Linked DNA regions of Homo sapiens: region 1 is linked to region 2. Evidence: fine-mapped expression QTL. Tissue or cell type: tibial artery. Region 2 holds a variant in brackets; the other region holds the start of a gene. All regions are shown on one strand. Distances are between the middles of the regions.

The links. PIP is the estimated chance that this variant, and not a neighbour inherited with it, causes the effect.
Region 1: it holds the start of HNRNPA0, and the variant in region 2 is fine-mapped to the expression of HNRNPA0 in tibial artery (GTEx, PIP above 0.99).

What each region holds. Positions count from the first base shown.
Region 1 is chr5:137,751,145-137,759,240 of GRCh38, reverse strand. It overlaps HNRNPA0 (heterogeneous nuclear ribonucleoprotein A0), which reads left to right and starts at 4,878. Exons shown (of 1, transcript NM_006805.4): 1 at 4,878-8,096. The coding sequence starts at 5,175. The coding sequence ends at 6,092. RefSeq lists enhancers at 562-681, 4,146-4,837, 5,099-5,448, 5,959-6,118, 5,528-6,219 and a silencer at 4,159-4,518.
Region 2 is chr5:138,630,852-138,638,954 of GRCh38, reverse strand. No RefSeq gene overlaps it. Among named protein-coding and RNA genes, the nearest start is that of HSPA9, 60 kb to the right of the region's middle. The variant T/G (reference allele first, on the strand shown) is at 3,559.

The DNA of each region.
Region 1 (8,096 bases), 880 kb after region 2:
AAGGACATTTATCATGAACTTTTAGGAGAGGCTGAAGTTCAAAAGGTGACACATGTTCCTTTTTCGGCTAGTACCATAACTAGACAAAGTGATGAAATACAGAGGATATTGGGGCACAATTGTTAGGATTAATGAGTCACCATGGTATGCAATCCAGGTTAATGAGTCTACTGATGTTGACAAGACAACAATGCTTGTTTTTGTGCCATATCTTTTTCAGGAGGATGTGCAGGGGAATATGTTATGTGCACTTTTGTTGCCAACCAACACCACAGGTGCAGAACTATTCAAGACTTTGATTACATATCAGAAAAACGGAATTGGTCATTTTGTGTCAGTATATGCACAGACAGAGTGGCTGATATGACTGGATGGCTTTCTGGTTTCACTACTCAGGTCAAAGAGGTCACTTCTGAATGTGAGTCTATGCACTGTGTCATCTACAGAGAAATGCCGGGTAGCCGAAAATTGTCACCCGAACTTAAGGTTTTACAGGATGTGATTAAAATTATCAATGACATTAAAGTGCATGCCCTTAACTCAATGTCTGTTTGCGCAACTCTGTGAGATGTGTATAAGAAATGAGATGGCTTTCTAAAGGTAGATAACTGGCCAGAATTTTTGAGTTATGAGAGCCACTCCAGAGATTTCTTTTACAAAAACAGTCACCACTAGCAGCACATTTCAGTGACATAGAATGGGTGGCAAAACTTGTTTACTTGTGTGACACATTCAACCTGCTCAGTGAATTCAATCTGTCACTTCAGGGGAGAATGACAACTGTGTTCAAATCAGCAGATAAAGGGGCTGCATTGAAAACCAAACTGGAGTTATGGGGGCGATGAGTGAACATTGGGATTTCTGACATGTTTCAAACATTAGCAGAGATTTTGAAAGTGACTGAGCCAACGCCTTCTTTCTCCCAGCTGCTGCATGATCACCTAGCTCAGCTTTCAAAAGAGTTTGAGCTTTACTTGCCAACCACAAAAAAATCCCTGAGCTGGGAAGGAATGGATCCACCACCCATTTGTGAATAAGCCAGAAGAATTGACTTTGTCGATACTAGAAGAGGATCAACTGCTTGAGATTGCAAGTGACGGCAGCCTTGTATGTTTGAGACAACTTCAAATCTCCATACATTCTGGATGGAATATCCTGAGATTGCCACAAAAGCACTGAAAAGCCTGCTTCCATTTCCAGCATCCTATATTTGTGAAGCAGGGTTTTCTGCAGTGACAGCAACCAAAACTAGATTATGGAGTAAACTGGACATAAGCAACACACTTCGGGTGTCACTGTCTCCCATCACCCCCAGATGGGAACCGGCTAGTTGCGGGAAAACAAGCTCAAGCCTTCCACTGATTCTACGTTACGGTGAGTTGTATAATTATTATATTTCATTGAATATTATGATGCAATAATAATAGAAATAAAGTGCACATTAAATGTAATGCACTTGAATCATCCTGAAACTACATCCTGGTCTGTGGAAAAATTGTTTTTCACAAAATAGGTCTCTTGTGCCAGAAAAGTTGGGCACTGCTGGTAAACTATTATTTAAAAACAATGTAGGCAAAAACTATCTACCAAAATTGTAAATTCCTAAAGTAACAGTTTTCATAAGTTATGGTCTTTATTCCTTCAGGAGTTCATCTTTTACTGTTTTAAGATTTGGATGACTCTGAAACAGTGGTGCCATCTCAGCTAACAACAGCAGCATCTGCCTTCTGGGTTCAAGCAATTCTCCTGCTTCAGCCTCCCAAGTAGCTGGGACTACAGGCATGCGCCACCACACACGGGGTTTCAATTTGTTAGCCATGCTGGTCTTGAGCTCCTGACCTCAAGTGATCCGCCTGCCTCAGCCCCCCCACAGTGCAGGGATTACAGGCACGAGCCACTGTGCCCAGCCCATTTTCCCCTTTCTTTATTATCAATAGGCAAATCCTGACATTTGAATTTTTTTTGTAATAACAAGGTTAATAGCTTTCTACTGTCCTCTTTCATTTTTTTAATGTCATTTATCACTATCTAACATGCCATATACCACTCTTATTTGTTTATTGTCTGCTTCTTCCCACTAGAATGTAAGCATCATGAGGGCAGAGGTTTTTGTCTGTTGTTTACAGCCATATTGCCAGCACCAGGCATAGGATTCATATAATTGGATAAACTGAGCACTTACTGTGTACCAGGCATGTATACATGTTTACATGTAGAATCTTATTTAATTTTCACTACAACAGAAAGATGTTTTATTATTCCCATTTTAAGATAATAAAACTGATTACATTTTTTTAAAAGGTTAAGTAACTTAGCCAAAGTCACATAACTGAATGGTTACAGGGTAAGTGATAGATCAGACTAGTTTACCCTCAAACCTTAGCCCATCTATTTACCTTTGTTACAGTATCCAAACTACTTAACCTAAGATTCAGCACATTCCATAGTATCATTTCATAGTACCAAAGACCCTCAACCTATCTTACCTCTCACTATTTTCTATCTAAAACTGCCTGCTTCTCTCAAACTAACTGGCCCACTCCCTGTCTCTTGAAGCTTATGTTCCCTCTGGATTTTGCTCAAATAAACTCCCTACAGAAATCTTTTTTTTTTTCCTTTCCAACTTTTATTTTAGGTTCAAGGGATACGCGTGGAGGTTTGTTATGTGGGTAAATTGTTAGTCTTGGGGGTTTGGTGTATAGATAATTTTGTCACCCAAGTCATCAGCATAATACCTGATAGGTAGCTTTTTAGTCCTCACCCTCCTCCCACCCTCCATCCTTAAAAAAGACCTGATGTCTAATGTTCCCTTCTTTTGTGTCCATGTGTACTCAATGTGTAGCTCCCACTTATAAGTGAGAACTTGTGGTATTTGGTTTTCTGTTCCAGCCTTAATTTGCTTAGGATACTAACTAGTCTTTGGCTCTGAGGTTCAGTGCAACTTCCAATTCTTTCCTAAATCTTTCCTGAATACTTGAGGATACAGTGAGGAATTCCTCTTAACTTCTTCAGCGTTTACCATATGGTTTTGGAGGCTTTTGGTCACGTAATGCCTCATATTAACTATGTCCCACCCCATTTATCTTGCTTGGCACACAAAGGCTCAATAAATGGAAGCCATTGTAATTTTCTTCCATTCCCATCTGAGTGAGGGCACTAAAAGCAGTAACTTAGGGGTATATGATCTCTCTCTCTGTAAAACATTCGTCTAACCCAACATCTTTAAAAAGCTAACATTCTACTTTTGGGAGGCCGAGGCGGGCAGATCACTAGGTCACGAGTTTGAGACCATCCTGACCAACATGGTGAAATCCCGTCTCCACTAAAAATACAAACATTAGCCAGGTGTGGTGGTGCCCGCCTGTAGTCCCAGCTACTTGGGAGGCTGAGGCAGGAGAATCGCTTGAACCCGGGAGGTGGAGGTTGCAGTGAACCAAGATCGTGCCATTGCATTCCAGCTTAGGCAAGACTCCGTCTCAAAAAAAAAAAAAAAAAAGCAAAGTTAACATTCTAGGCCAGGCGCGGTGGCTCACGCCTGTAACCCAGCACTTTGGGAGGCCGAGGCAGATGGATCACCTAAGGTCAGGAGTTTGAGACCAGTCTGACCAACATGGTGAAACCCCATCTCTGCTAAAATACAAAAATTAGCCGGGTGTGGTGGTGGGCGCCTGTAATCTCAGCTACTCAGGAGGCTGAGGCAGGAGAACAGCTTGAACCCAGGAGGCGGAGGTTGCTGAGCCGAGATTGCGCCAGTGCACTACAGCCTGGGCAACAAGAGTGAAACTCCATCTCAACAACAACAAAAAAGCTAACATTCTAGTTCAAAGAAAGCAACACATAGATGATGTAAATTACACATAAAAAACCATTCACTGAGGTTAAATGAAAATGTCTGCTGGAGTGTGCCAAGGGGACCTGAAAGGGCCTCCTCTGAGAGGGCATCGTGGGAGGGCTTCAAGGAGGGCGGGAGGGTGGCAGGGAGGCAGGGATGTCGCGCCTCGTCTGGTTCCTAATGTCTGAAGTTCTTTTGGTTCCCTGTTGTCTTTCACACCGCCGCCTCGGGCTCGCTTTTGCGCAGGGCCACGTGGCAAAGTTTTAGTTTAACCGCACGTCGGGCCCACTGTAAACGGTTAATAACCGCCTTCGTGGACCAGGCCTCTGCCCTCCATCTTTGTGCGGGCGGGAGGTGGGGCGGGGACGCCAGGTGTAGCGGACAAGCGGAGAGGCGGCGGGTAGATCCGGGCCCCCAACCCCAACAGTCAAGTTTTCAAAAAGCCCGCGCGTGGCGCCCCAGACCGCATCCGTTGGGAATGGCCCCCAGCGCGCCCCCTGCTCTCTCCCCGGCAAAGCCCTGGGCGGGAGAAGGCGCGGGGGTGGTAGGCCGGCTCTGCACGCCGGGGGCGCCGGGGCAAGCGCGCACCGGGGAGCGCGCCCGTCCAACAGCTGCCGAAAACGGAAGTGGGTGCGAGGGGATCACGGTGATTGGCTGAACTCAGATGTCTCTCAAGGGGCTGGCGCGAACGCCACTGCGGAGTTGGGCGAGGGGATGAGTAAAGGGGAGGGGGAGAAACACTGGGAACAGCCGCGGTGCTAGGAGGAAATGAATCGCGGTGGTGCGCGGAGGGCAGGGAGGGACCCATGTCAAGGGACAGTGGGGCGCTCGGGAATGAAAGTGGGCTGGCAGAAGCGGAAGCGGGAGCGGCACAGGCCGCGGGCTTGAATAGACCGCGGAGGGCGGGGAGTCCGTGATCTAGAGCGGCGCTGCGGCGCGGTAGGCGGGATTAAGGGGAGCGAGGCGGGGATTGGCTGGTAGCCCTAGGCTGCCGTACGTCGGCGGTGACGCACGCCTCGGGGAGGGTGCGCGCGCGTTCAGCGGCCTCTTTGTGTGGTGCCCAGATAGGGGAGCGGAGGTGGCGGCGGCGGCGGTAGCGGTGGCCTTGGTTGTCTTCCAGTCTCCTCGGCTCGCCCTTTAGCCGGCACCGCTCCCCTTCCCTCCCCCTTCCTCTCTTCCTTCCTTCCCTCCCCTTCCCTTTTTCCCTTCCCCGTCGGTGAGCGGCGGGGGTGGCTCCAGCAACGGCTGGGCCCAAGCTGTGTAGAGGCCTTAACCAACGATAACGGCGGCGACGGCGAAACCTCGGAGCTCGCAGGGCGGGGGCAAGGCCCGGGCCTTGGAGATGGAGAATTCTCAGTTGTGTAAGCTGTTCATCGGCGGCCTCAATGTGCAGACGAGTGAGTCGGGCCTGCGCGGCCACTTTGAGGCCTTTGGGACTCTGACGGACTGCGTGGTGGTGGTGAATCCCCAGACCAAGCGCTCCCGTTGCTTTGGCTTCGTGACCTACTCCAATGTGGAGGAGGCGGACGCCGCCATGGCCGCCTCGCCCCATGCCGTGGACGGCAACACTGTGGAGCTGAAGCGGGCGGTGTCCCGGGAGGATTCGGCGCGGCCCGGTGCCCACGCCAAGGTTAAGAAGCTCTTTGTCGGAGGCCTTAAAGGAGACGTGGCTGAGGGCGACCTGATCGAGCACTTCTCGCAGTTTGGCACCGTGGAAAAGGCCGAGATTATTGCCGACAAGCAGTCCGGCAAGAAGCGTGGATTCGGCTTCGTGTATTTCCAGAATCACGACGCGGCAGACAAGGCCGCGGTGGTCAAGTTCCATCCGATTCAGGGCCATCGCGTGGAGGTGAAGAAAGCAGTCCCCAAGGAGGATATCTACTCCGGTGGGGGTGGAGGCGGCTCCCGATCCTCCCGGGGCGGCCGAGGCGGCCGGGGGCGCGGCGGTGGTCGAGACCAGAACGGCCTTTCCAAGGGCGGCGGCGGCGGTTACAACAGCTACGGTGGTTACGGCGGCGGCGGAGGCGGCGGCTACAATGCCTACGGAGGCGGCGGCGGCGGTTCGTCCTACGGTGGGAGCGACTACGGTAACGGCTTCGGCGGCTTCGGCAGCTACAGCCAGCATCAGTCCTCCTATGGGCCCATGAAGAGCGGCGGCGGCGGCGGCGGTGGAGGCAGTAGCTGGGGCGGTCGCAGTAATAGTGGACCTTACAGAGGCGGCTATGGCGGTGGGGGTGGCTATGGAGGCAGCTCCTTCTAAAAGAAAATTTAAAATGCCTGGGAGTGGCTATAGGGGTAGCTCTTTCCAACAGCCCAAGTGGGGTCAACTCCTAAGCCCCACCCCCTCACACACACCGCCTTCCCTGTTTTGCCCTTGGGGGAGCCACTTCTAAGGCTGCTTACCCTTGGGGGTGTTCCTCTATTTGCCTGCCACCTCTCTTGTCTCTCCCTCTGAAGATGGACTCGGCCCCACATACACATTTTTGTGTTACAGTCATTGATGGACTCTATTTTTTTATTATTACTTGGACCTTGGTCGTTTTTATACTAGCAAAATGTCTTGTTTTAATTTGTGTTTTTTGGGGGGAGGGAGGGAGTGAACTTGCTGATTCTGTAGCAAAACCTGGGTGGGGGTTGGGGTGGGGGGTAGTTTACTTTGTTGTAAGGACTTGATAACCTGGCTACAGCGTTTTCTATGAAATCTACTTGGATCCCATGCCTGAAATTTGGAAGCATATGTACAAAAATCATTTTTACGTTTTATTTTTAATAAATCATTGTGTTTGACCGTACATGTCTAACATTTTTTTTCTAGGATCCATTCCGTACCGTTTTTTAAGGGATATTTGTTTAAGACTTTACGTGTTAATTCTTTATTCTTGATGTGTACTTAGAGAAACTTAAGAGGTCCTGTGGTTTTTTTCCCCTCTCCTGTTGCCCTGCTAGTTGCGTGTTGAATTATATCCCTTACAGGCAAAACTTTTGAAGTGGTGGATGTGGCTTTTTAAACTCTTAAGTTTCTGTGCATCCATCTCTTGTACTAAGCGAATTGTTTATCATCTTGACATGGTTGGTCATTTCTATGACAATTTACTTCAAACTGTGTACTGTGTAGTTCTATATAGTTTGTGTTAAGCATGTCATTCATATAAACTGTTTAAAATTTTTCAGATGGCCTAGTTTCATCCCTCTTACTGGTTTGTCTGTAATGAATGGTTAAAAATAAGGGTTATATTTTACCCTCAAATGCGTTTTTGTACTTTCAGAGCAGGTTTAAACGTTTTTTTTTTTTTTTTCCTATATCCGAACTGTTGGCCTCATGGAAATCCCTTTCCCGATCTTTGTAGCACCATCTACTGGCAGAATGGCAGAGTAGCTGCGAAACAATTTGTTTAAAAACTTGCTTAAGACAATTGCATCAGATTTGGAAGTTTTGCCATCAAAATTCTTTGCAGAATTGGAAGTTAACACATTTGCTTGTAACTGAGATGGGCTTCACAGGAATGTAGTTGCCAGTTCATATCACAATAGCCCTTTCTATATGAGGTTTGAAAATGTAAACTGCTATGCATAGCTTGGGCAATAGCCCTAAATTGCTATGACAACTAATGAACCAGCTACGTATACTGGTATTTTAGGTGCAAGTTGTAAAGCAAAATATCTGTGTATTCTGCTTGGTTAACAAATGTATATTTGTAGCCCTTTCCTGCAATAGCATTCAAGTTGTTGTTTATAAGAGAAGAACAAAAGTGATAATAGGTGAAAATTGCCTTTCTGGATAGAAATAGAGAATAGCAACGTTTATGGATATCACAAATAAAGAATTCAATTCTTTACATGATTGAGTGAGAGTATGTATAACCTGGTGGGTGGGTTCAGAGTACCTTTTAATCTAGTATGCTTAACTTGATGTTAATATTTAACTTAAATATTTGACTTACATGTTGACGTTGAAGGCTCAAAGCTATACTAAGAAGCTTTCTGAAAGATTGGGCTTTAAAATAAAATAATATTTTAATATTGAACCATTTTTTAACTTCTTGTCACTGTTCAATTCCTAAGGTCTAGTTCTTGCCAGTTTTTTTTTTTTTTTTCCTGATTGGCAGGGCTTTTAAAGAAGTAAGAAGAAAGGTTAAGATTATTAGGCTAGGTTATAGCTGCTCAGTAGTCATTTTGACAAAGGGTAGCGGATGGTTGGTACAAATAGTGTTATATCCTCTATGACAAACGGGGTGGATGTTTTTACACATTGAGGTAATACATA
Region 2 (8,103 bases):
TCTGATGACAGTGGTGGCTTAGTGTGGTGGCTTTGTGTGGTGTCCCCCTTAGAGGTGCTCTACCTCTTCCAGGCTCTGAAGTTCCCATAAACGAGGGGAGAATGAACAAGAACCAGTCACTGGCACTTGATGGTTTCTCTTATGTTGTTTCTCTTATGTTGTTTGCAACCTCCGCCTCCTGGGCTCAAGTGAGCCTCATGCTTCAGCTTCCCAAGTAGCTGGGACCACAGGTGTGCACCACCACACCTGGCTAATTTTTTTGTGTTTTTTGTAGAGATGGGTTTTTGCCATGTTGCCCAGGCTGATCTCAAACTCCTGAGCACAAGCAATCTGCCCACCTCGGCCTCCCAAAGTGCTGGGATCAAGAGTATGAGGCACTGCACCCAATCTGTTTGTTTTTTCTTTTTTTTGAAATGGAGTCTCGCTCTGCTGCCCAGCCTGGAGTGCAGTGGTGTAATCTCAGCTCACTGCAACCTCCACCTTCTAGGTTCAAGCAATTCTCCTGCCTTAGCCTCCTGAATAGCTGGGATTGTAGGCACGCACACCCACGCCTGGCTAATTTTTGTATTTTTAGTAGAGACGGGGTTTCAGCACATTAGCCAGGCTGGTCTGAAACTCCTGGGCTCAAGTGATCGGCCTTTCTTGGCCTCCCAAAGTGTTAGGGTTACAGGCATGAGCCACTGCACCCAGCCTGTTTGTTTTTTCTATAGTCCTTTTTAAAGCATGACTCCATGTCCTTCTGAAGCAGAAACTCACCTCCTGTCTCAAGTGTTTCATTGAGTGGGGGTGGAGTGGGATATCTTTCCTTTCCAGAATCTGGGAGAGCTGCAGTGGTTTGAGTTGTCTAGTGGAACTGCCTTAGTCAGTTCAGGCTTCTATAACAAAATACTGTAAATGGAGTGGCTTATAAACAACAGATTTTTTTTTCTTTTTCTTTTTCTTTTTTTTTTTTTTTGAGAGAGAGTCTCACTCTGTGGCCCAAGCTGGAGTGCAGTGGCGCCATCTTGGCTCACTGCAACCTCTGCCTTCCAGGTTCAAGCAATTCTCTTGCCTCAGCCTCCCAAGTAGCTGGGATTACAGGTGTGCACCACCATGCCCAGCTAATTTTTGTATTTTTAATAGAGACAGGGTTTCACCATGTTGGCCATGCTGGTCTTGAACTCCTAGCCTCAAGTGATCTGCCTGCCTTGGCCTCCCAAAGTGTTGGGATTACAGGCGTGAGCCACTGTACCTGACCAGAAATTAATTTCTCACAGTTCTGGAGACTGGAAATCCAAGATCGGAATCAACTTCTGGGTGGGGCCTTCTTCTTCCTTCAGATGGCCAGCTTCTAATTGTATCCTCAGCTGGCTGAGCACAGAGAGAGGAGGCAAGCAAGAAGCAGCAAGCTCTCTCAGGACTCTGGTTTTAGAGACCAGGTCTTGCTCTGTCACCCTGGCTGAGTGTAGTAGCACAAATAGCTCACTGCAGCCTCCAACGCCTGGCCTCAAGCAATCCTCCTGCGCTGGGCTCCTGAAATGCTGGTATTACAGGTATGAGCCACCATGCCTAGCCCCGTTCATGAATGAGGGCACTAATCTCATTCATGAGGGCCCCAATGACCTCATCTAATCCTAATTACCTCCGAAAGTCCCCACCTCCTAATATCATCACATTGAGGGGTGGGGTTTTAACATACACATTTAGTTGGGGACACTTAGTCTGCAGCAAGGACCAAACACATCATGTCAAGAGAAGCAAGAGGCAAATACTTCGAGACTGGCCTTGATCCTTAGAATATCTGGTTACTCTTAAATAAGGGCTCTCCAAATACTCCCTCTGTAGATCAAAGCCAAAGAACCCAACTCATCAAGAGTGGCTGCAGAAGGTGCAGCCCACACAGTCTGAGCACTAGAGGATCCCTAGGTATCCCCTAGATTCCAGGTCAAAGGCCCTCACCCCCTATTTGGTGACAGACTCAAGTACGAGCTTGTGGATTTTGAAATGAAAAGCAGTTGGTGCGGGAAGGAGTCCTTTGCACATAGAGGTGCTCAATAAATGCTGGATGCTGGGAGAAGAACATGCTCTAAAGGAGGCCAATGTTCTGTAATTTGAGGAGAGAAGAGGAGGCTGAGTAGGACTGGGGGGTCTTGCTACTTCAGCCAAGGTAACCAGGGAGCCTCCTCTGCACCCCTACCAAACTGGAGGTGGGAGGACAGGTTATCATTAGGTCAGATCAGCCTCCTAAGCCGGCATGAATCATTCTCAGGCCACCGCTGAGCCTACCTAGTCTCTGGTCTTGTCTAGACACTTCCTCTCCAGCTGAGGCTGGGAAGCAGGTGCAGTCACTTACAGCCTCACTCTTCACGGTGCTGCCATTAAGGACCCTGATTAGTAGAGCCCCATGCCGGGTTGCTAATGGGTTGAGGACATTAAGCATAAATGCTTTCCCAGATATGGGCTTGACCAGAGCCCAGGAAGAAACAAATATTTTAATCTCAAAGAAATAGCATGTAGGAGGGGAGGGGTTCCCTCTGCTTACTCGGCATCTGTTGTCCTCCCATCTTCCACCTGCCACACTTGCTGCCATTCTCAAGTCCCGGGAATTCCCTGTCCAGGCAGTGGGGTTTGTGGCAGGGGAGAACAGATCTTCACTCACCCAGGTGTATGAGAATGGAAGAGATTCTCAAAGATTTAGAGGGAGGGGGATTTTGTGGACTGCCTTGTCCTATAAACCTGATGGTCAAGAAGTCCTTGACATTGAATTTGGATGACTCTTGTGATAACTCAAGCCTACTTCCCCTTGGTTGGGGAGCTGGAGAAAAGGACTGAAGATCATGAGGGACATCTTTTGACCCAAACAAGTTGCTTTAGGTCAGTGATTCTCCCAACGTGGTTGGGACCAGCAGTATTGGCATCCGCATCAGCTGGGAACTTGCTAGAAATGTAAGCTCTCAGGCCTACCCCAGACCTACTGAATCAGCTCTGGGTGTGGCATCAGGCAAACTTGTTTTTTTGTTTGTTTGTTTTTGAGACAGTCTCACTCTGTTGCCCAGGCCAAAGTGCAATGGCATGAACACAGCTCACTGCAGCCTCGACCTTCTGGGCTCAGGTGATCCTCCCACCTCAGCCTCCAGAGCAGCTGTAACCATAGGCACACGCCACCAAGTGTGGGTAATCTTTTGGTATTTTTAGTAGAGATGGGGTTTTGCCATGTTGCCCAGGCTGGTCTCGAACTCCTAGGTTCAAGTGATCTACCCACCTCAGCTTCCCAAAGTGTTGGGATTACAGGTGTGAGCCACTGCACCCAGCCCAAACTTGTTTTAACAAGCCTTCTAGTGGTTCTTATCCACTTTCAAGTTTGAGAACCACTGCTCTTGGCTCTCCCTCTCGGACTGAAGGGGAATGTCAAGAGAAGGAAGAATTATGAGGGATGCAGCAAGCAGCCTCATCCAAAGAAAAAAAGAAACTGGAACTTTCCCAATGTGGAAATCTCGAGCCAGGCCTCAGAAGAGGCCTCTGATCCTCTGCGGCTGTAAATGTCAGAGCAGTGTCTAAGTGGCCCTGTGAGGAGGGAGT[T/G]GGGGGGAAAATAACCAAGCATGACCTTTTGCATTTTGCCCAGAGCAAGGAAGGATAATGGAGCAATCTTTTCAGGTCATTTATCTCCTACTCAGCCTCAGCTTTTCTCAGCTACCTTTCCCTCCAGCTGGGGCCCCCTAAAGCCTAGCCCTCCTTTCCTTCTCTTCCACCAGCCCTCTGCAGCCCTCTGGCCAGGCCCCTTCCCACCCCCGCAAGCCCCCAACCCCAACCCCCACCCCCGTCTATCTTTCCCCCTCCTCCATCAAATGAGAACTGGTTCAAACTGTTTCTTTTTTCTTTCTTTCTTTTCTTTCTTTCTTTCTTCTTTTTTCTGTCTCTCCCTCCCTCCTTCCTTTCTTCCTTCCTTCCTTTCTTTTTCTTTCTCTTTCTTTCTTTCTTTCCTTCTTTCTTTCTTTCCCTTCTCTCTCTCTTTCTTTCTTTTTTTGAGACAGAGTCTTGCTCTGTCACCCAGGCTGCAGTACAGTGGCGCAATCTCGGCTCACTGAGACCTCTGCCTCCCTGGTTCAAGCAATTCTCCTGCCTCAGCCTCCCAAGTAGCTGGTATTACAGGCACTTGCTACCACACCTGGCTAATTTTTGTATTTTTAGTAGATTCAGGGTTTCACCATGTCTGACCTCAGGTGAACACCCACCTTGGCCTCCCAGAGTGCTGGGATTACAGGCCTGAGCCACCGTGCCCGGCCTCAAACTGTTTCTTAAGCAGACCAGCAAGGAACGAAGCCCTATTCCATAGGGAATAAGAGGGAGAAAAAAAACACTATAACCTGTAATGGGGCAGCCTCTCTTCAGACCCCACCCCCTTTCCTTTTTTTTTTTTTTTTTTTTTTTTTGAGACGGAGTTTTGCCCTCGCCCAGGCTGGAGTGCAATGGCACGGTCTCAGCTCACCGCAACCTCCACCTCTTTGGTTCAAACGATTCTCCTACCTCAGCCTCCTGAGTAGCAGGGATTACAGGCATGCGCCACCACACCCAGCTAACTTTGTATTTTTAGTAGAGATGGGGTTTCTCCATGTTGGTCAGGCTGATCTCGAACTCCCAACCTCAGGTGATCCACCCACCTTGGCCTCCCAAAGTGCTGGGATTACAGACGTGAGCCACTGCGCCCGGCCTCCTCCCCTCTTTCCTACCCAGGCCATACCAGTTTATCGTGCCTCCATAAAGAGTGAAGCCACTCTTTCCCTGGCCTTTTACACAACACCTGAATGGTCACACTTGCAAAGAAAGAAAAGGACAAAATCTAGGCTCCTAACCAATCCATATGTTTCCCAAGGGCCAATAGTGCTCTATAGCTTATTTTCCTTCTACATCTGCCATACTAGGTAACAAACGCACTAGATGTCTAATGAATATTTCATAAATTGAACTCAAGGGAGCTCCTAGAAGCAAGAAACTAAGGAGTCTGTTTCCAAATTGGACCCACAACAGGAATCAAGACATGGGTCCTCCTGAAATGACTAAGGAAGAAGCAGCCTTCTGCTGCCTTTGTTCCCATGCACTGCTGTCTTCATCTGTTCATTCACTCCACAAGCATGTAGAGCACACCTGCTGTATGTGGACCCTAGATCATATGTTCTAGTGGGAAAAACACATATAATGTAAGTAAACATATAATATTTCAGGTGATGTTAATTGCCTCAGAGAAAAACAAAGGATGGTAAGGGGGATGGGGATGGTGGGAATGGGGCCCAAGAAAAGCCTCTTTGAGTGGGTGGCATTTGAGCAGGATCCTAAAGGAAGTGAAGGAGACACATTTTCAGCTATCTGGGGAAAGAATGTTCCAGGCAGAGGGTATAGCAGCTTCAAAAGCTCTGAGGTGGGGGTATTTTGCAAGGCGTGGAGTGAGTGAGGCTGGAGTGGAGTGAGTAAGGATGAAAGATGTAGGATATGAAATCAGAGAGAAATTGGTGCTCAGATTATGTAGGGCCTTGTAGACCATGGTAAGGATTTTAGATTTCTTTCTGAGTGAGGGGGGAGGTCTTTAGAAGGTTCTACACAGAAAAGTGACACGTTCTGATTTAACGGGATTACTCTGGCTGCTGTGTTTAGAACAACCTGTAGGGGGCAGAGCAGAAAGAAGAAAACCACTTAGGAGACTATGGCAGAGCAAGGAGTTTTCCCCTCAAATTCATCCTTTCCTTCCACATTTTAGCGGGCGACATGGCTGCTCAGAAAAAGGACTACATTTCCCAACCTCCCTTGCAACTAAGCGCAGCCATGTGACAAAATGCCAGCAAAAAGGATGTGAGCAGGCCGGGCGTGGTGGACTATGCCTGTAATCCCAGCACTCTGGGAGGCCAAGGCAGGCGGATCACGAGGTCAGGAGTTCAAGACCAGCCTGGCCAGGGTGGTGAAACCCCATCTTTACTAAAAATACAAAAATTAGCCGGGCGTGGCGGCAGGCGCCTGTAATCGCAGCTACTCCGGAGGCTGAGGCAGGGGAATTGCTTGAACCCGGGAGGTGGAGGTTGCGGTGAGCCAAGATCGTGCCACTGCCCTCCAGCCGGGTGATAGAGCGAGACTCAGTCTCAAAAAAAAAAAAAAGAACATGAACTAAAAAAGGTAAATGCGTGAGGTGATGGATATGTTCATTAGTTTGATTGTGGTAATCATTTCACAATGCATACAGATACCAAAACATTGCATTGTACAGCTCAAATAATATATACAATTTTAATAGAAAATGGTCTCGATCTCCTGATATTGTGATCCGCCCACCTTGACCTCCCAAAGTGCTGGGATTACAGGCATGAGCCACTGTGCTCGGCCCCTAATTCTTTTTTTGAGGGAGAGTCTCACTCTCTTACCCAGGCTGGTGTGATCTCGGCTCACTGCAACCTCTGCCTCCTGGGTTCAACCGAGTCTCATGCCTCAGCCTCCCAAGTAGCTGGGATCACAGGCACGCGCCCCCATGCCTGACTAATTTTTGTATTTTTTAGTAGAGATGGGATTTTGTCATGTTGCCCAAGCCAGTTTTGAACTCCTGGCCTCAAGTGATCTGCCTGTCTTGGCTGGAATTACAGGCATGAGCCACCACGATGGCCTGTATTGTACCTAATTCAAAGGCTATTGTAATTTCTCAGGCAAACAGTGACAGCGGGTGGTTCTGATGAGGGTGATAGTGGTGTAACTGGGTATAAGTGACCAGATTCTGGAGATAATTTAAAGGGTAGAACTTGATAGCATTTCCCAAGGGATTGGATAAGGGGACATGAAAGGAAGAGAAGAACCAGGAATGACTCCAAGATTGGGGCTCTGGTAGAACAGATTTGCATTTATTGCCCTGGGGAAGACTGAGGGACTGCTGAGTTTGAGAGGACTATAAGAGAGACTCACATGGGGATGGCAAGTAGCCGCTGGATATGACCACGACCTATCAACATAGCTGGCTTTAAAGTCCAGAGAAGATGGAATTAGTTAGGGAGTGAGGATGGATGAAGAAGAACAGAGGCGTAAGGACAGCCCTGAGGCATCCAGTGATGGGGAGGTGAGGAGCCAGCCCAGGAGATGATGGAGGTAGGAGAACTGGGCGTGTCATGGAGGCCAAAGGAAGAGAGTGTTTTATGAAGAAACCATCCATGTCAAATGCCACTGCCAGGATGAGTAAAATGGGGACTCAGAAATGACAGCTGAAATTAGCAACATGGAAATCACTGGTGACATTGACAAGAGAATTTGCCTTGGAGCACTGAGGACAAGCAGGGATGGGAAGAGAGGAAGTGGAGACAAATACAGACGATTCTTAATTCCTGGCAGGTAGAAATCATTAAAGCATCTAATTTCCACCCTTCCTATCATAGTTCTAAGCCTTCTAAAGGACATGAAGGCACCCAGCAACTCAGTCTATCCAGCTCCCCTTCCACATGGGTCTGAAAGGCTCTGCAGTTTTTCCTCTCCCAAATTCACCCTGTTGCTGAGAGCCCCAGCCTGCCTGCATCTCTGCCTCTGCCCTACTGGCTCCCAAGGCCGCTCTCAAGGACTGCCTTGGCAGGCTAGGCAGCCAGGCCTGACTCTCCTGGATCATAATTAGTGCTGCTGCTAACAATGTTTGGCCTCTGTGGAATAGCAACCTGGGAAGTTCTGATACTTCCAATTTTCCCCCTCAGTGCTCTCCCAGATGCAATTTCCCAGCCAGTGCCTTGTGCTCTCCAGCCCTGGGCCCTGGCTGCCTCCTTGCCAGGGAGAATTAAGCCTGTGCCCCAGATGCCACTCCAGAGGGCCTAATCAGTTAGGTAAAACCATCTCCTGGCCACTGTCATGGCATTATCGTATTAACACAGGCACTGGCTTTGGAGGAGGCAGGGGGCTGCTATAAGGAAGAGGAACCAGGCCAGCCCTACACAGCACACAATGAGCATTGCTAGTCAGAAAACTGATGGCTGGAGAAAAAGGAGCCCTCCCAGATGAACTCTGGAGTTTTCAGTAGAGATGCAGCTCAACCATCTCCTCTTTCCTGATGAGAAGCCCACCAAGTGCTCCTTTCTCCAGCGAGGGAGGGTCTCAGCAGACAGAACCCTGGACACTGCC